4 linked regions of the Homo sapiens genome follow. The protein of the gene in region 2 purifies or fractionates together with the protein of the main gene of each other region. This does not show direct contact. Each region holds a gene or a part of one and is shown on either strand. Other genes may lie near its edges.

Region 1 (3,500 bases), on a different chromosome or scaffold from region 2:
GAGAAAGCACTTCTGGGGTTCCCATTTCAGTGAATTTCTGATGTCAATTTCTGATTTTAAATTCTCTAAGATGCCCTCGTAGCTCTCAAATAAATGCTTTTTCTAAGCTTAAGTGGGGAGTTACTGTTGCCTGTCACCCAGTGGGTCCCATTCAATACAGATAGGTTAAGGAACTTCAAATTGTTCAAATGGTGGTCAGGTGGGAACACATATCCCGTCAAGGATATTGGCTTCTGCTTCCTTTGCTCATCTCTCCTTTAATTTGTTATAGACTCCCACAGTCGTAGAATGTCAGAGCTGGAGCAAACTCATGTAATTTATCCCCCTCTCAATAAAGAAGAGGAGTGTTCATTTCATAGAGGTGGGTGACAGGCCTGAAGAGCACAATAAGCCGTGTAGCCAAGCTCACACAGGAGGACCCATCTGCCTCCCATCCAGTTCTGATGAGTACTAACTCTGTGAGATGATCCAAAAAAAACACTGCACATTCAAATATGTGTGCAAAATACTACATATCATACCACTTCCTCTTGAAGACTGACACATATATTAGCATTTAAGAAGGACCCCAGAAATCCTTCAACAATGGAATCTATTTAACTTTTTAAAACCCAACTTTTTCAAATGCATAATGACATCTTCCATTTTGCTTGCTTGCTTTCTGAACACTGTAGTTGTAGAATACACTCTGGGAATTAATGGCTATCTTTTCCCACTGAGACAGTTGAGATGCTTCTATAATTAGCTCAGGCTAAGCCTTTTGGATGCTGGCTCTTTAAACCCAGGCATATGGGTTGAATCGTGTACCCCTGAAATTCATAAGCTGAAGGTACTGGTAACCCCTAGTTGCTCAGAATGTGACCTTATTTGGAAATAGTCATTGCAGATGGAATGAGCTAAGACAAGCTTATTGGGGTTAGGCTTTAATGGAATACAGAAGGTGCCTTTATAAAAAGGGGAAATTTGGACACAGAGCCTCAGACACAGGGAGAACACCTTATAAAGATGGAGGTAGAGGCTGGGTGTGGTGGCTCACGCCTGTAATCCCAGCACTTTGGGAGGTCGAGGCAAATGGATTACCTGAGGTCAGGAGTTCAAGACCAGCCTGGCCAACATGATGAAACCCCATCTCTACTAAAAGTATAAAAATTAGCCGGGCGTGGTGGCACGTGTCTGTAATCCCAGCTACTCAGGAGGCTGAGGCACAAGAATCGCTTGAACCCAGGAGGTGGAAGTTGCAGTGAGCCAAGATCACGCCACTGCACTCCAGCCTGGGTGACAAGAGCGAGACTCCATCTCAAAAAAGAAAAAAAAAAAGATGGAGGTAGAGCTTGGGGTGGTGCTTTTAAATGCCAAAGCACGTCAAAGATTGTCAGCAAACCACTAGAAGCTAGGGGAGAGGCATGGAACAGATTCTTCCTCACATTCCGCTGAAGGAAGCAACGCTGCTGACACCTTGATCTTGGACTTCTAGTCTCCAGAACTGTGAGGCGATAAGTTTGTGTTAGTTTAAACTACCCAGTTTGTGGGACTTTGTTATAGTGGTCCTAGTAAACTATTATAATAGGCACTCCACATTTCAGTGATTTTTTTTTAACATCATTCTTCTCCATTAGCTAAATGACCAGAGAGAAACTCACCTGCATCCTGGTTATATAGACAGGTTTGTTCATTATGATCCAACTTGCTGTCTCATAGCAGGGTGGGATAGTCATCGACCCATCGTAAGTGATGAAACTAGAGGTCTCTGGATATAGTTCCTCTATATTAAGCCCCTGTAGTAAATATGCATCATCTAGAGAAGGAAAGAAGACTTAAAAATTAGGTTTCTTGAGAAAGGGATGGTATTGCTGACATACATACATACATACATACATATACATATACATATACATACATATATACACACACAGATATATATGTATTTCTTTTGGAATTCCAGAAGACTCTATCTGTCAGAACAGGCTGCAGTAACAAGCAGTTGTCCCCCAGATCTCGGTTGTTTTAAGCAATAAGAATGTATTTCTTGCTCACACACATGATCATTCCAGGTTGGCTGAGGCTTCCCTCCATGTCATTGTCCATGCTTTGGGACCTAGACTCTTAGAGCAGTAAACACCTGGACCTGTGCGGATCACAGTGACAGAAGCGAAAGCATGGCGAATGTGTGTTGGTTCTTAAAACTTCCATCCCAGAAGTGGCACACATCACTTGTGCTCATGTTTTGGTAGCCAAAGAAGTCACATGGTTAAGGCTGATGTTGGGGATGCGAGGAAGCACATTCCTTCCACAGGATGGGGCCCTGAGCATTGGTGAGCTGTAAGCAATGCGTTCTACCACAGGGATTGTTTGAGGAGTCCTTGATTCTAGTCCCTGAGATCTGGACTCCTAGGCATTACAGGTATCATGAGATGGACAATTAAAGCTTCTAGACCTGTTGAAATTCACCTGGTGACCATTCTCACTTAAAACAACAATAAGAAAATATTTTTGGATAGAAAAGTAAATCAGGCCAAATCCTACCATGAGATTCTATGGTTAAGCTCAACAACTGATTATTTTGTGTGTGTGTGTGTGTGTGTGTGTGTGTGTGTGTGTATTTTTCTCTCTCTCAGGTCTATGCAGATAGCCTTTTCTCTTACACCAATTTGAGGTATTCATACCCATATATCTTCTATTACTAAATACAGTAATTCAATGGTAAAAATGACATAAGTACATCACAGACTATATGGAAAAAAGAAAAAACAATTTCAGTCATCTAAAACTGTTACTATTAGCATTTTGGTGTGTTTCCTGTTAATTTTTTTAGTCAATGTATTGGTTGTATTTTTGATAAAATTGTGTGTATTGGAGTTTTAAAATATCAGTTAATTGCAATGTATCTCTCCTCTTCTCCCCTCTTCATGATCCTTCTTCCTTTCTTTTAGCACGTGATTGTTCTCTTCTGCTGGCTTCAAAAATACCATACTTAGTATTCCCATTTTTCTGGCCATTCTCTCTCAGGTTTTGTTGCTGTCTCCTGATCTTCTACCTGCTTCTCTCAATGATGCAATTCCCCAAAGATCAGTCCAAGGCTCCCTTCTTTTCTTACTCTATCCTCTCATCTGAGAGTAGCTCATCTACATCCATGGCTTCACTTGCCTTCTGCATCCCAGTGATTCCAGATCTATATCTCTAGAGGTATCACATCCCCAGGCATACCATGAGCACCCATCACTGTGGCCAGTCCAGGAGACCTGGAGAACACATGGCAGGGTCCCAAAGCCTGGCTGGCCGAGGGATGAGACTGACTCTCCAGCCCCATGGATGCACACATGTTCTCTCGTCCATGTGTCTAACTCCCAGTGGGAAAGTACTCATTCTTCAGGGGTTGAGGGAACCTCTTCAGTTTAGTATTGTGCACATATATGGTAAAGGAAGACTTTCACATATGGCTGGAACCTCACATTGACTCAATAAAATGAGTCAGGCAGATAGTAACATCCTCCACTGACAAG
Region 2 (4,192 bases):
ACAATACACATTTAACTTCATTTTCACTTCCTATTATTTTTAGAAAAAAAAATATTTTTAAAAAGTCAACTGTGCCAGCTCAAATTATTTCCTAATTGGAAACAAAGATTCTATACTACTATTTTTTTTTTCTCATTCAGCATTGAATTGTGTCAAGTCTGGTGCTAGGAATACAATGAATCCCAGGCTCCTGCCCTAAAGGAGCTCAAAATATGGTAAGAGAGGGTTGGGAGAGACATGAAAAAAAAAGTTTGATTCCCAATCTACCAAAGGTTTCCCCACTGTCGCTGGAAAAATTTACAGAATCCCTCCCTTTCCATTGTATAGTTGAGAGGTGCATAATCTTTTTTTTTTTTTGAAATGGAGTCTCACTCTGTCACCCAGGCTGGAGTGCAGTGGGCGACTTCGGTTCACTGCAACCTCTGCCTCCCAGGTTCAAGCGATTCTCCCTCCTCGAGCCTCCTGAGTAGCTAGGATTACAGGCGTCTGCCACCAGGCCCAGCTAATTTTTGTATTTTTAGTACAGACAGGGTTTCACCATGTTGATCAGGCTGGTCTTGAACTCCTAACCTCAGGTAATCTGCCGATCTTGGACTCCCAAAGTGCTGGGATTACAGGTGTGAGTCAGGGCGCCTGGCCGAGAGGTACATAATCTTAAGAACCAGAAAAAATTTCAACAGTTATCTCCAAAGAAGGATTCCTGGCCGGGTGTGGTGGCTCACACCTGTAATCCCAGCACTTTGGGAGGCCAAGAGAGGTGATCATGGGGTCAGGAGTTCGAGACCAGCCTGGCCAATATGGTGAAACCCTGTCTCTACTAAAAACACAAAAATTAGTCAGGCATGGTGGCACGTGCACTGTAGTCCCATTTACTTGGGAGGCTGAGGCAGAAGAATCGCTTGAACCCAGGAAGTGGAGGCTGCAGTGAGCCAAGAACATGCCACTGCACTCCAGCCTGGGCAACAAGACAAGACTCTGTCTCAAAAAAAAAAAAAAGAAGTATTCCCTAGTAAGACATGACATTCCTCATCACCTTTAACAGTTATGAAACTCCTTTTTCCCCCTTTCCACTGCAATTCAGCCTCATTTGAGAGAATGAGATATGTCTGAGGTCTTGGCTTAACTGCTAAATTGGGGAGGAGACAAGTATAATGGTTAAATGTGGACTGCCTGATTTTTTGTCTGGGCACTTATTAGCTGTGTGATCTTGGGCAAACTGTTTAACTTTTCTTTGACTTCGTCTCTTCATCTTTAAAATGACAGATGGTGGTGATGAAAATTAAATGAACTATTAACATAGCTATTTCTCATCACCTAGTGGTGATGAAAATTAAATGAGCTATTAATATACTAAAGTTCTTAGTTGTTATTAATACCATTTAATTTTCCCCTTCTGGAGGTTAGAAAGGGGTTTTATTCATTATGGTACTTCTCATAGTATACAGTATAATGCCCTATACATGTGTTCAATAACTAACGTTGAAAGAATAAGCACTTTTATATATTTTCAACAGTAATTACTTTAAAAACTTAAGAAGAACTAACCTTCAACAAAATGTGATCCTTCAGTAACAAACTCCAGTAACTGGTCAAAGATTGCAGTAATCGCCTTCTTAGCCAGCACAAAGTGCTTCAGTGGAGAAACAGGTTCTGCCATTATGCTACTAGAGGGAGATAAAGTTAGAAAAGCACCAACTAAAGTGGATGATAGACATGCAAACTGATGACACACCAGTGACATTCATCAACTCCCCAATGAAATAAATTATGCTGGCAAAATGTTTTTAGGTAATTCTTTTTTGGGAGTGTTCTAGTCAGACAGTTAGAGACGACTTTTGAATGATATTTCACTAAAATAAGTGAAATCTATTAGCCAAAATCTTGGTTGCAATTTCTACTCAATTTCCCTTTGGTGAAGACGAAACTAATTGTGACTAAGTTTGTCACTGCATGTGACTCTAAAGTACATCAGGGAACAGGGTTAGTGAGGCGAAGCCAAATTCACACACAATAAGGAAGTTACTAAGTTTCTCAACCTGAAGCTCTAGGTGAGTAGGAGTGGATATGCAGAGTGAGGAAATAAAATTCTAAGATCACAATGTGAGGCTGACATTTAGAAAGGTAAGGCTTCAAGAGGGCATTAACGCTTCCAGCCAAAGTACCAGAAACTTCAAGGACTATAAGTTTAAGAAAGCATAGGTGGTTTCTCAAGAAAAAGACACCAAAGACAAACAATCACGGTCTAATCCTGGTGTGTACATGGAAAGGAACAGTGGCCATAAAGAAGGCGGATTCTTCCAGAGAGTCAAGAAATGACCGCGCGAAGGAGCTGCGTGGGAAAAGCCGGGTGGGGGTAACGCCCCGGTCCGGCCGGTGTGAACACCTGCCTTAGAAAAGGCCTCCCACCTTCCCACACCGGGCGCAGGAGTCAGGGCCAGAGCCCACCCCCGCCCCGCGCACGACCGTCTAGGTCCGGATCCCCCAATCCCACCCCCGAGCACGGCCTCGTGGGCTCCGTGGGCTCGACTCGGCCGCCAGCCCCGTTCGCCCGACAGCTGGCTCTCTCCTTTCCCACAGGACCGCGGCGGGCGGCGCCTCGTCACACAACGCTGCATGCACGACTCCCGCCCCCGGTCCCCAGTCGCTCGAAGGTCACTCCGAGCGTCGCAAACGTGCTGTCGAGGCAGCCGGCACTCACAGTCTCCGCTCCAACTATCACCCGGCAACAGCAACTCGGCCACAGATGCCAAACTGCCTCATCTTCCCGAGAAGTTAAAGGCGGAGAGGAGGCAGGGGGAGTGGCAAAGGGCGGTCACTTCCGGCCTCTTGCCTCCTCTGTTCTGTTTGGCTCCGTGGCCGGAAGCGCATCTATGCCAGGCGCCATTTTCCTTAAGGGCAGAAGGCAAGGTTTGTTGTGGGCAGAGACTGCTACCAGGAGAGTGGTTTTCCGTTCCCCCTTCCAACTTCTTCCCCTCCCTTCTCCCCTCAAAGTGTCCAAGTATCTGCCCAGCCTAGGCTTAGCTAGCTTCCAATGATGGTGGTGGCTGACGCCTATAATCCCAGCACTTTGGGAGACCGAAGGGGTGGGATATCTCTTAAGCCCAGGAGTTCGAGACTAGGCTGGGCAACATAGGGAGGCGCCCCCCCCCCCGCCCCCGACCCTCTTCCTCCTCCCCGTCTCTACAAAATTAAAAAATGAAAAATTAAAAAAATTTTAAAAACTTAGCGAGGCGTGGTGGCACACACCTGTGGTCCCAGCTACTTCGGAGACTGAGGCGGGGGGATTGTTTGGGCCCGGGGCTGCAGCGAACTGTGATTTATCGTGCCACTGCACTCCAGCCTGGGCAAGAGAGCGAGACATTTTTTCAAATAAATAAATAAATAAATAAAAGAAAAGAAATCCAGATCGTATTACTTTCCGAACTTAAAAAGCTTTCCAGGCCGGGCGGGGTGGCTCACGCCTGTAATCCCAGCACTTTGGGAGGCCGAGGCGGGCGGATCACAAGGTCAGGAGATCGGGAGCATCCTGGCTAACACGGTGAACGCCCGTCTCTACTAAAAATACAAGAAGTAGCCGGGCGTGGTGGTGGCGGGCGCCTGTAGTTCCAGCTACTCAGGAGCCTGAGGCAGAGAATTGCTTGAACCCGGGAGGCGGAGGTTACAGTGAGCCGAGATCGCGCCACTGCACTCCAGCCTGGGCGACAGAGCCAGACTCCATCTCAAAAAAAAAAAAAAAAAAAAAAAAAAAAAAAAAAAAGCTTTCCAACAGCTTGCCATTATACTTAAAATTAAAGCTTCGGATGGTAACCGCCCAAGGAAAGCCTTCACCTTGCCCGCTGACTAGCCAGAACTGATACAAGACAGGGGGATTGCAAATAAAGACTTAGTCACGCAAAGCCGGCTGTATGGGAGACTGGAGTTTTATTATTACTGAAATCAGTCTCCCCGAGCAGCACTGGGGAGCAGAATTTTTAAGGACAATTTGGTGGGTTGGGGGAGGCCACTGAGCCAGGAGTGCTGATTGGTCAGGGATGAAATCGCAGGGAGTGGAAGCTGTCTTTCTGCACGAGTCAGTTCCTGGGTTGGGGGACACTAGGTCAGATGAGCCAGTTTATCGGTCTGGGTCGTGCCAGCTAATCCATCAGTTCTGAGCATAGGTAGTCTCAAAGGGAACATTTACTCTGTTTGAATT
Region 3 (4,295 bases), about 140 Mb from region 2:
GTGCATAGTTATCAACATCACTACTGCACAAAGAAAAATAAGCCTTGCAGCTTAGAACAAAGGGTAGCAAAGTATTCAATCACCAGGCAGGTTTGTAATTTTGTTTCGTTTTGTTTTTTGAGATGGAGTCTCGCTCTGTCGCCCAGGCTGCAGTGCAGTGGCACGATCTCGGCCCACTGCAAGCTCCACTTCCTGGGTTCACGCCATTCTCCTGCTTCAGCCTCCCGAGTAGCTGGGACTACAGGCGCCTGCCACCACACCCGGCTATATTTTTAGCAGAGACGGGATTTCACCATGTTAGCCAGGATGGTCTCGATCTCCTGACCTCGTGATCGGCTCGCCTCGGCCTCCCAAAGTGCTGGGATTACAGGCGTGAGCCACCGCACCCGGCCTGTAATTTTTTTTTTTTTTTTAATGTTTATACTTTCCTTAATCCTTTCTGGGAATAACCTCCTCTGGGACCACTTTCCTTCCTGTTCTATGTACCTCAGAAGCACAGGAATGAAGCCTGAAAAAATATTATCTTGCTCCCTAAGTCACTTTCCTTTCTGATCTAGTTCTTGGGTGATGAATGAAGGTGGAAAGTAGCGAAGGTTGCTATGAAAAGCTTGGACTTTATTACCAGGGCCACTGCATTTTCAACAGGAGTGTCAGGATCCCAGCAGTAATGCTTTTCCATGGATCAGCCAGACAGGCATAAGGGGAAGTTGGGAGACCAAAAAAGCCATTGACAGATTCCAGGTGAGCAATAAACCAGAATTTTGACCAACTAGACCAGCGCTGTCCTACAGAAATGTAATGGGAGCCACATGTTAAAGTTTAAATGTTTTACTAGCCACATTTAAAAAGAAACACATGAAGTTATTATTATTTGTTTTAGAGACGGGGTCTTGCTTTGTCGTCCACGCTGGTCTCCAACTCCTTGGCTCCCTCAAGCAATCCTCCAGACTAGGCCTCACAAAGTGCTGAGATTACAGGCCTGGGCCACTGCCCCCGGCCTGAAGTTAATTTTAATATTTCACCTAACCCAATATATCCAAAATATCATTTCAACATATAAAAATTATTGAGATTTTACCTCACCAGTCTTAGACATCCAGCGTGTGGTTTATGCATACAGTACATATCAATTCCACACTAAATTTTCAGCATTTAAAGGGAAATATGGTCCTGAAAAAAAAACAACAAAACAAAAAAACGCCTGTTTAAGGAGAAAGCATTCCACACTGCTTGTTTTAATATAATTAAAATTAATGTATCAATTAATAAATCAATAGCCCACGTTGGCTAGTGGCTGCCTTACTGGGCAGACCAGGTCTGGATTGTAAATACGTTCAGACGTTCCACGCAAAAGCAAAGTTCCCTGCAGACGCTCCATTAAGTTCTGGGTGCAAGGAAGCGCGGATCCTTCAGTTCTGGGCGTTTTCACCAGGTGGCACTCAGAACACCCTCACGTGACAAGCGTCCCACCCGGAAGCGAAATCTCCCCTTCTACAGAGTTCCTCCGGCGCTTCCTCCACCCCGGGATACACAGAACCTCATCTCCTACGGTGCTGAAGCCTGCAGCAGGGCAGGATGGGCAGGAGAGCAGAGCCGCGGAGTCTGCGGCGCGGGTGAAGAGCGGCGCGTAATTCCCGCAGCAAGATTGTTCCGCGCCCGCAGCCCCTGGACTAGCAGGATCCGAACCCCGGCGGCTGCGTGCTTATAGGCGCAGACGTCAGAGAGCCCGCGGCTTAAAGCGCGTCGCCTGGCTAGCGCCACCCCCTAGCCTTCTTCAAGGCCTCCAGGGCTGGGCCCAAGCGCCCGTCGACGGCACCCTGGGCCCAGAGGACTCGCGGGCCTCATCTCCAATGATTCAGAACTCACGTCCGTCGCTGCTGCAACCCCAAGATGTCGGAGACACGGTGGAAACGCTTATGGTGAGGGCACTGCGGGGAAGGAAGGGCAGGGGTCCGAACCGCGGGCTCGGGCCGGAGAATTCGGGGCGTTGCTAAGGCTCGGCTACCCTTTTCCGCGCCCCAGGGTGCGCTCAGGATTTAGGATGCGGCGGGAGAGGAGTCTGACTAAGGGAATTGAGAAGGGGGCAGGGAGTGAGGAGAGGCCAGGAGCTGCAGGCCAGCCCTGGGGGCAGGCGCTGTAGGGCCGATGTCCCGGTAAAGGGCGGAATTGCCGGGGCCTGGACTGGACGCGTGCCGGGGAGTGTGCCCGCGCGGCCCCCACAAGGTGCGAGTAGGCTGCCAGGTGGAAGGGCACCCGGGCAGATTTGGGACGGTCACAAGGCCTGATAATAGCGCTGACGCTGAGAAGCCGTTGATGCCGCAGCGAGCTGGCCGGGTAGCGCTGTGCGCCCGCGGGCGGCGGCCTACCTGGAGGGGCCAGTCGTGGCGGCACCCTTCCAGCCTGTTGGGACGGCGCGTGGTCCCCCAGCGACGCCACGCCTCCTCCGGCGTTCGATTGGTCATCGTGCCCGGGCCGCCGGGCCGCTATTGGTGGAGGCGGAGGCGGGGCTGGCGGCGTGGTTGCCCGGTAGGTGGAGTCGGGGTGCAACCAGTCTTTAGACGCTAAAGGCCTGAGGCCACTGCAGCTGCCGCAGCTCTCCCTCTGAGGTCTTGCGCCCGAGGTAGGGGCGGCTTTTATTTTTTTTTTTAATCCTTAAAGGCGGAGACGGCGGCGGTGGCGACTTTACGTTGACGTCTTTGAAAACCTGCTTACCTTTTTCAGGGCTCTCCAGCCCTCGCCTCCAGATGTGAATTGGACTTAGGATAGTTTTTTCAGGGCAGTAGGAATTGCTTGTGGATCCAGTTTGTACTCTTATGTGCTACTTATTTCGTGTGCGTATTATTGTTTATGCCCTCTTCTTTCTCCCCTTAAAAAGAAACTACTTTTTTATTTACCTTGAATATATTTTTGAGCTTTCTTTTCTTTTTTCTTTTTTTTTTTTTTTGAGACAGAGTCTCGCCCTGTCGCCCGCGCTGGAGTGCAGTGGCGTGATCTCGGCTCAACTGCAACCTCTGACTCCCGGGTTCAAGTATTTTTCCTGTCTCAGTCTCCCACGTTGCTGGGATTACAGGCGTGCGCCACCACGCCCGGCTAGTTTTTGTATTTTTAGTAGAGAGAGGGTTTCACCATGTTGGCCAGGCTGGTCTTGAACTCCTGACCTCAAGTGATCCGTCTGCCTCGGCCTCCTAAAGTGCTAGGATTACAAGTGTGAGCCACCGCGCTTGGCCTTGAGCTACTTTTTAAAAGTTAAGTTCACTCGCAAAGGATGTGTGCCATTCACCATTGACAAAAATCTTAAGACCATTCAGTATTACCTGTTGGGATGGTTTTTGTTGTTGTTGTTGTCTTGTTTTTGCCTATTAGAAGTTGATCTATACTGCTAGTATAAATAACATCTGCTCTGTGCTAATGGACTGGGAAAAGTACAAAGCTAAAAAAGTTATTGGCTCAATAACTTGAGCCAATAACATGTCTAATCACTGTGCTGTGAAATAAAAGACGTTAAGAAGATATTTCCTGCAATCAAGGGTGGGAAGGTCAAGGACAGCAGCAAATTTGTTTTAAAACAAATTCCACACAGCACCTGTGTGAGCACTGGGGAAGCAGCGCCTAACATAACTGCCCAGAAACTAACTGCAGGTCATTCCTATAGCCTTGCTGGAGCAAGGGGCCTGGAGAGAGGTGGGGGAGATTAACCCATCCTGGGATGAGTCATGCAGGGCCCACCGAGCCCTATCATGTGGGATTGTGCTCAAAGGGAGAGCATAAGGTTTCCTGTTAGGTGGTAAGATTCATTCCGCTGTCACTGCTGAACACCTACTGTGCACCAGGCTCCGAGGTCAGTTCTTGAGATATCACCATGAACAAGACAGGCAGGAGTTGTGACTATTCTGTCTTTGACACGCAGTCATAAGGGAGATGGGGACAGGTGTTGCTGTAGAAGCCGGAAGGAGAGGCACTGAACTTGGACATGGGGGAGTTAGGGAGCAAGACCGGTGCTAGGGCATAACAACATGTCAGAGTTTTCAGAGGTGAAAGTAAGGCGGAGTCCTCCAGTATGGCTGCAGAGTGTGTTAGTGGGAGGGTGAGAACATAGGCCAAAACGGTTAGCAGGAGCCCTGTGATACATGAAAGGCCCTGCAACCAGCAGTTTGGACTTTATCCTGAGAGGAATATGAACCAATTAAAGGGTATTGGTTTGGTTGGGTTTTTTAAAATTATAATTCAATTAGTATTAATGACAAATTTGTGGGATACTCTGTAGCTCCTAATACATTTGTCATTACTTGTATTTT
Region 4 (3,500 bases), on a different chromosome or scaffold from region 2:
GGTGGGCGGATCACCTGAGGCCAGTCGTTCAAGACCAGCCTGGCCAACATGGTGAAACCCCGTCTCTACTAAAAATACAAAAATTAGCCAGGTGTGGTGGCACACGCCTGTAATCCCAGCTACTCGGGAGGCTGAGGCAGGAGAATCACTTGAACCCAGGAGGCGGAGGTTGCAGTGAGCCGAGGTTGCGGCCACTGCACTCCAGCCAGGGCAACAGAGTGAGCCTCCATCTCAAAAAAAAAAAAAAAGAAAAAAAAAAAAGTTGAAAAACTAAATTTGCTAAAATTAAATGTGCCTAATTTTCCTAATTAAAAAATGTTTATCTTTACTTAAAAATGGAGGGGGGTATCTATTACTAGAAAGAGTAACTATATAAAATTATTTGAATTATTGATGCACATTCAGAGTCCTGGTTTTTAATACCAAAAAGCCATTAAGGTTGGGCGCAGTGGCTCACGCCTGTAATCCCAGCACTTTGGGAGGCCGAGGCGGGCGGATCACCTGAGGTTGGGAGTTCAAGACCAGCCTGACCAACATGGCGAAACCCTGTCTCTACTAAAAATACAAAAATTAGCCGGGTGTGGTGGCACATGCCTATAATCCCAGCTACTAGGGAGGCTGAGGCAGGAGAACTGCCTGAACCCGGGAGCCGGAGGTTTGCAGTGAGCTGAGACTGCGCCATTGCATTCCAGCCCAGGCAACAGTGTGAGACTCTGTCTCAAAAAAAAAAAAAAAAAAAAAGCCGTCAAAGAGGCAAATAAAATACTGCAAGTCAGACATAATCATAAGATTTCTGCTGAAACCTTTTAAATGTCCTGAAATCCTATTTTTAACAATATTTTGATTAAAGCAAATCATCTTGATTACAATAGTGCATCTTAAATCACTGGGAGTACAAGTGTAATTGCTGCTTTATCTCTGAAACAATGTTTCTCTAGTTTTTTTTTCAAAAATTACCAATTAAGGCTGTGGCTCATGCCTGTAATCCCAACACTTTGGGAGGTCAAGGCGTGCGGATCATTTGAGATCAGGAGCTTGAGACCAGCCTGGCCAACACGGTGAAACCCCATCTCTGCTAAAAATACAAAAAAATTAGCTGGGCATGGTGGCGGTTGCCTGTAATCCCAGCTACTCTGGAGGCTGAGGTGGGAGAATCGCTTGAACTTGGGAGGCGGAGGTTGCCGTGAGCTGAGATCAAGCCACTGCACTCCAGCCTGGGTGACAGAGCAAGATTCTGTCTCCAAGAAAAAAAAACAAACAAAAAAAGAAATGCCCGATTTACCAAGAATATTTCTCATCCCCCTAAAAACTTGCCCCCCCTCCCTTTTTTGAAACAGAGTCTCTGTCACCCAGGCTGAAGTGCAGTGGCATGATCATGGCTTACTGCAGCCTGGATCTCCTGGGCTCAAGCGATCCTCCTGCCTCAGCCTTCCAAGTAGCTAGGACCACAGGTGTGGGCTACCACACCTGGCTCATTTGTATTTTTGTAGAGGCAGGGGTCTCCCTATGTTGCCCAGGCTGGTCTTGAACTCCTGAGCTCAAGCAATCTGCCTGCCTCAGCCTCCCAAAGTGCTGGGATTACAGGTGTGAACCACCATGCCCAGCCCTTGGGTCTTTTTAATTTTGGTAGTATAGAAATAACTGGAACCTCAGAGGAGACACCTGTAATGCCAACTAGAAAAACACTGCTGCAAAGGACATCTAGTGGAAGGGTAAAAAGTAAAAAGCAGTAGAAACCTCAGCTTCCCTGAGAGCATATTAGACCAGTGCTTCCCAAACTGTAAATAAAGTCCATTCTCATCCCCTGGGCGTTCTTAGTAACATCAACTGGTCTGGGGCAGGCATTTCCAACATACTGCCAGGGCATGGCCAAGCTACACTGGTTCCTGAGCCACACTCTTTGAGTAGTGAGGCATAATCTCCATAGTGTGATGTTCATATTTTAGCATTTTATTAAGTTTTACAGGTTTTCATGCTTGGTATATCTTGTTGGCTAACCCCTAGGCATGTAATAAATACTTAGAAATTTTCCACCAAACATGGTGATAAATTATTTTGCTCTTTAAAGGAATAACACTTCAGTTACCTATATAATTTACTAAAGCAGAACATTTTACTCCTTGATGAATCCATAAAAATACAGCACAACTGTATTCTTACAGTATGTACAAAATCTTATTTTATCCTTTTATTTTCACAGGCAATGCATAATTAGGTTGTTTTTAAATGAGATATTATGTAAAATTGATAGCAATAACTGTCACACACCTCTATTGCCATTGTAGGGTTTTTCTCTTTCTCTGATACTTTTTTGTGTGTGTTTATTCAACATTTATCAATAAGAATTTTAGTGCATTCACTAAGAGCCAAGCACCGACACATCCTGATATGCTTCCATCTAGGACTTTTAGCTGCTTAAAAACATTTAACATGCTTCTTTTCCTCCAGCAAACTCTTTTAAAAAAAAAATGAAACTCTTTCCTTCAATGAGATTATTTCAGAAGTTGCCAGTCATCTTGGAACCCAAACTCAGTAATAAGCAACTGTGGCACCACAAGTGGAAACCTTTTGATGATGGGCCCAGTGGTTTCATGGAATACACGGGTTTACTGCTATAACCCAAGAGACTCCAGTTGAGACAGTCTGGCTCAGACACATGCATCCACAACTATGAACAGGAGTAATGCCTGGACTCATACCCAGTTCTCTTGTTGACTATATCTTTGCCAAAGGACTACTGACTAGTTTTAATGGGGCCAAGAACACAAATATGTATATTTTTCTTATAAAGAAACATTTTAATTCTATTCCCCTTTATGTAATAAAGGCTTCTTGAAAAACATGAAAGGTTTGGGGAGCAAATGCTTAGGAAGTTTTCTGACATTAAACCACCTTGTTCGTTCGTTCATTCATTCATTCATTCATTCATTCATTTTTGAGACGGAGTCTCTCACTCTGTCACCCAGGCTGGAGTGCAGTGGCGTGATCTCAGCTCACTGCAACCTCCATCTCCCAGGTTCAAGCAATTCTCCTGCCTCAGCCTCCTCACCTTGTTCTTTAAAAATAATCATATTCTATGAATATGTGTCTGCTGGTATAGCAGAAAGAGAAGGATTAATCAATAAAGTCCTAGAAGGTGAACTCGGAGGAACACAATTTTATGAAGACTCACAGTTTAAGACAAAGCTAAAACATTTATATGTGGTGATGATTAAAACAAGAACAACAGACTTTAAGGGGAATGGGCTTCTGAAGGTTATTGTAATACAAAAAGTATGGAAGGTCCCACTTTGTATAAAAACTGTGATGTAAAATTTCTGGTATAGTTTAAAAAGAAAAGAAAGAAAAGGCCCCAGAGAAAAACAAATATTTTCGCACAGCTTTTTTTTTTTTTTTTTTTTGAGACTGAATCTCACTCTATCACCCAGGCTGGAGTGCAGTGGCGCGATCTCAGCTCGCTGCAACCTCTGCCTCCTGGGTTCAAAAGCCTCCCTAGTAGC

What was found. Proteins that work in one complex are often made in the same cells at the same time.
Region 1: the proteins of MFN1 (region 2) and CA10 purify together in Homo sapiens (co-immunoprecipitation; one large-scale study listed by IntAct). This does not show direct contact.
Region 3: the proteins of MFN1 (region 2) and SLC25A38 purify together in Homo sapiens (affinity purification with western blotting; one study listed by BioGRID). This does not show direct contact.
Region 4: the proteins of MFN1 (region 2) and SYAP1 purify together in Homo sapiens (affinity purification with mass spectrometry; one large-scale study listed by BioGRID and IntAct). This does not show direct contact.

Annotation. Positions count from the first base shown.
Region 1 is NC_000017.11:51,634,215-51,637,714, forward strand, and holds part of CA10 (carbonic anhydrase-related protein 10 precursor), read right to left. Parts: intron 1,796-3,500; coding exon 1,641-1,795; intron 1-1,640. UniProt on the Homo sapiens protein: Does not have a catalytic activity.
Region 2 is NC_000003.12:179,346,317-179,350,508, reverse strand, and holds the start of MFN1 (mitofusin-1), read right to left. Parts: upstream 2,801-4,192; 5' UTR 2,699-2,800; intron 1,665-2,698; 5' UTR 1,658-1,664; coding exon 1,546-1,657; intron 1-1,545. UniProt on the Homo sapiens protein: Mitochondrial outer membrane GTPase that mediates mitochondrial clustering and fusion. Membrane clustering requires GTPase activity. It may involve a major rearrangement of the coiled coil domains.
Region 3 is NC_000003.12:39,381,875-39,386,169, forward strand, and holds the start of SLC25A38 (mitochondrial glycine transporter), read left to right. Parts: upstream 1-1,495; 5' UTR 1,496-1,850; coding exon 1,851-1,919; intron 1,920-2,366; exon of another isoform or gene 2,367-2,451; intron 2,452-2,560; exon of another isoform or gene 2,561-4,295. UniProt on the Homo sapiens protein: Mitochondrial glycine transporter that imports glycine into the mitochondrial matrix.
Region 4 is NC_000023.11:16,761,112-16,764,611, reverse strand, and holds part of SYAP1 (synapse-associated protein 1), read right to left. Parts: 3' UTR 1-3,500.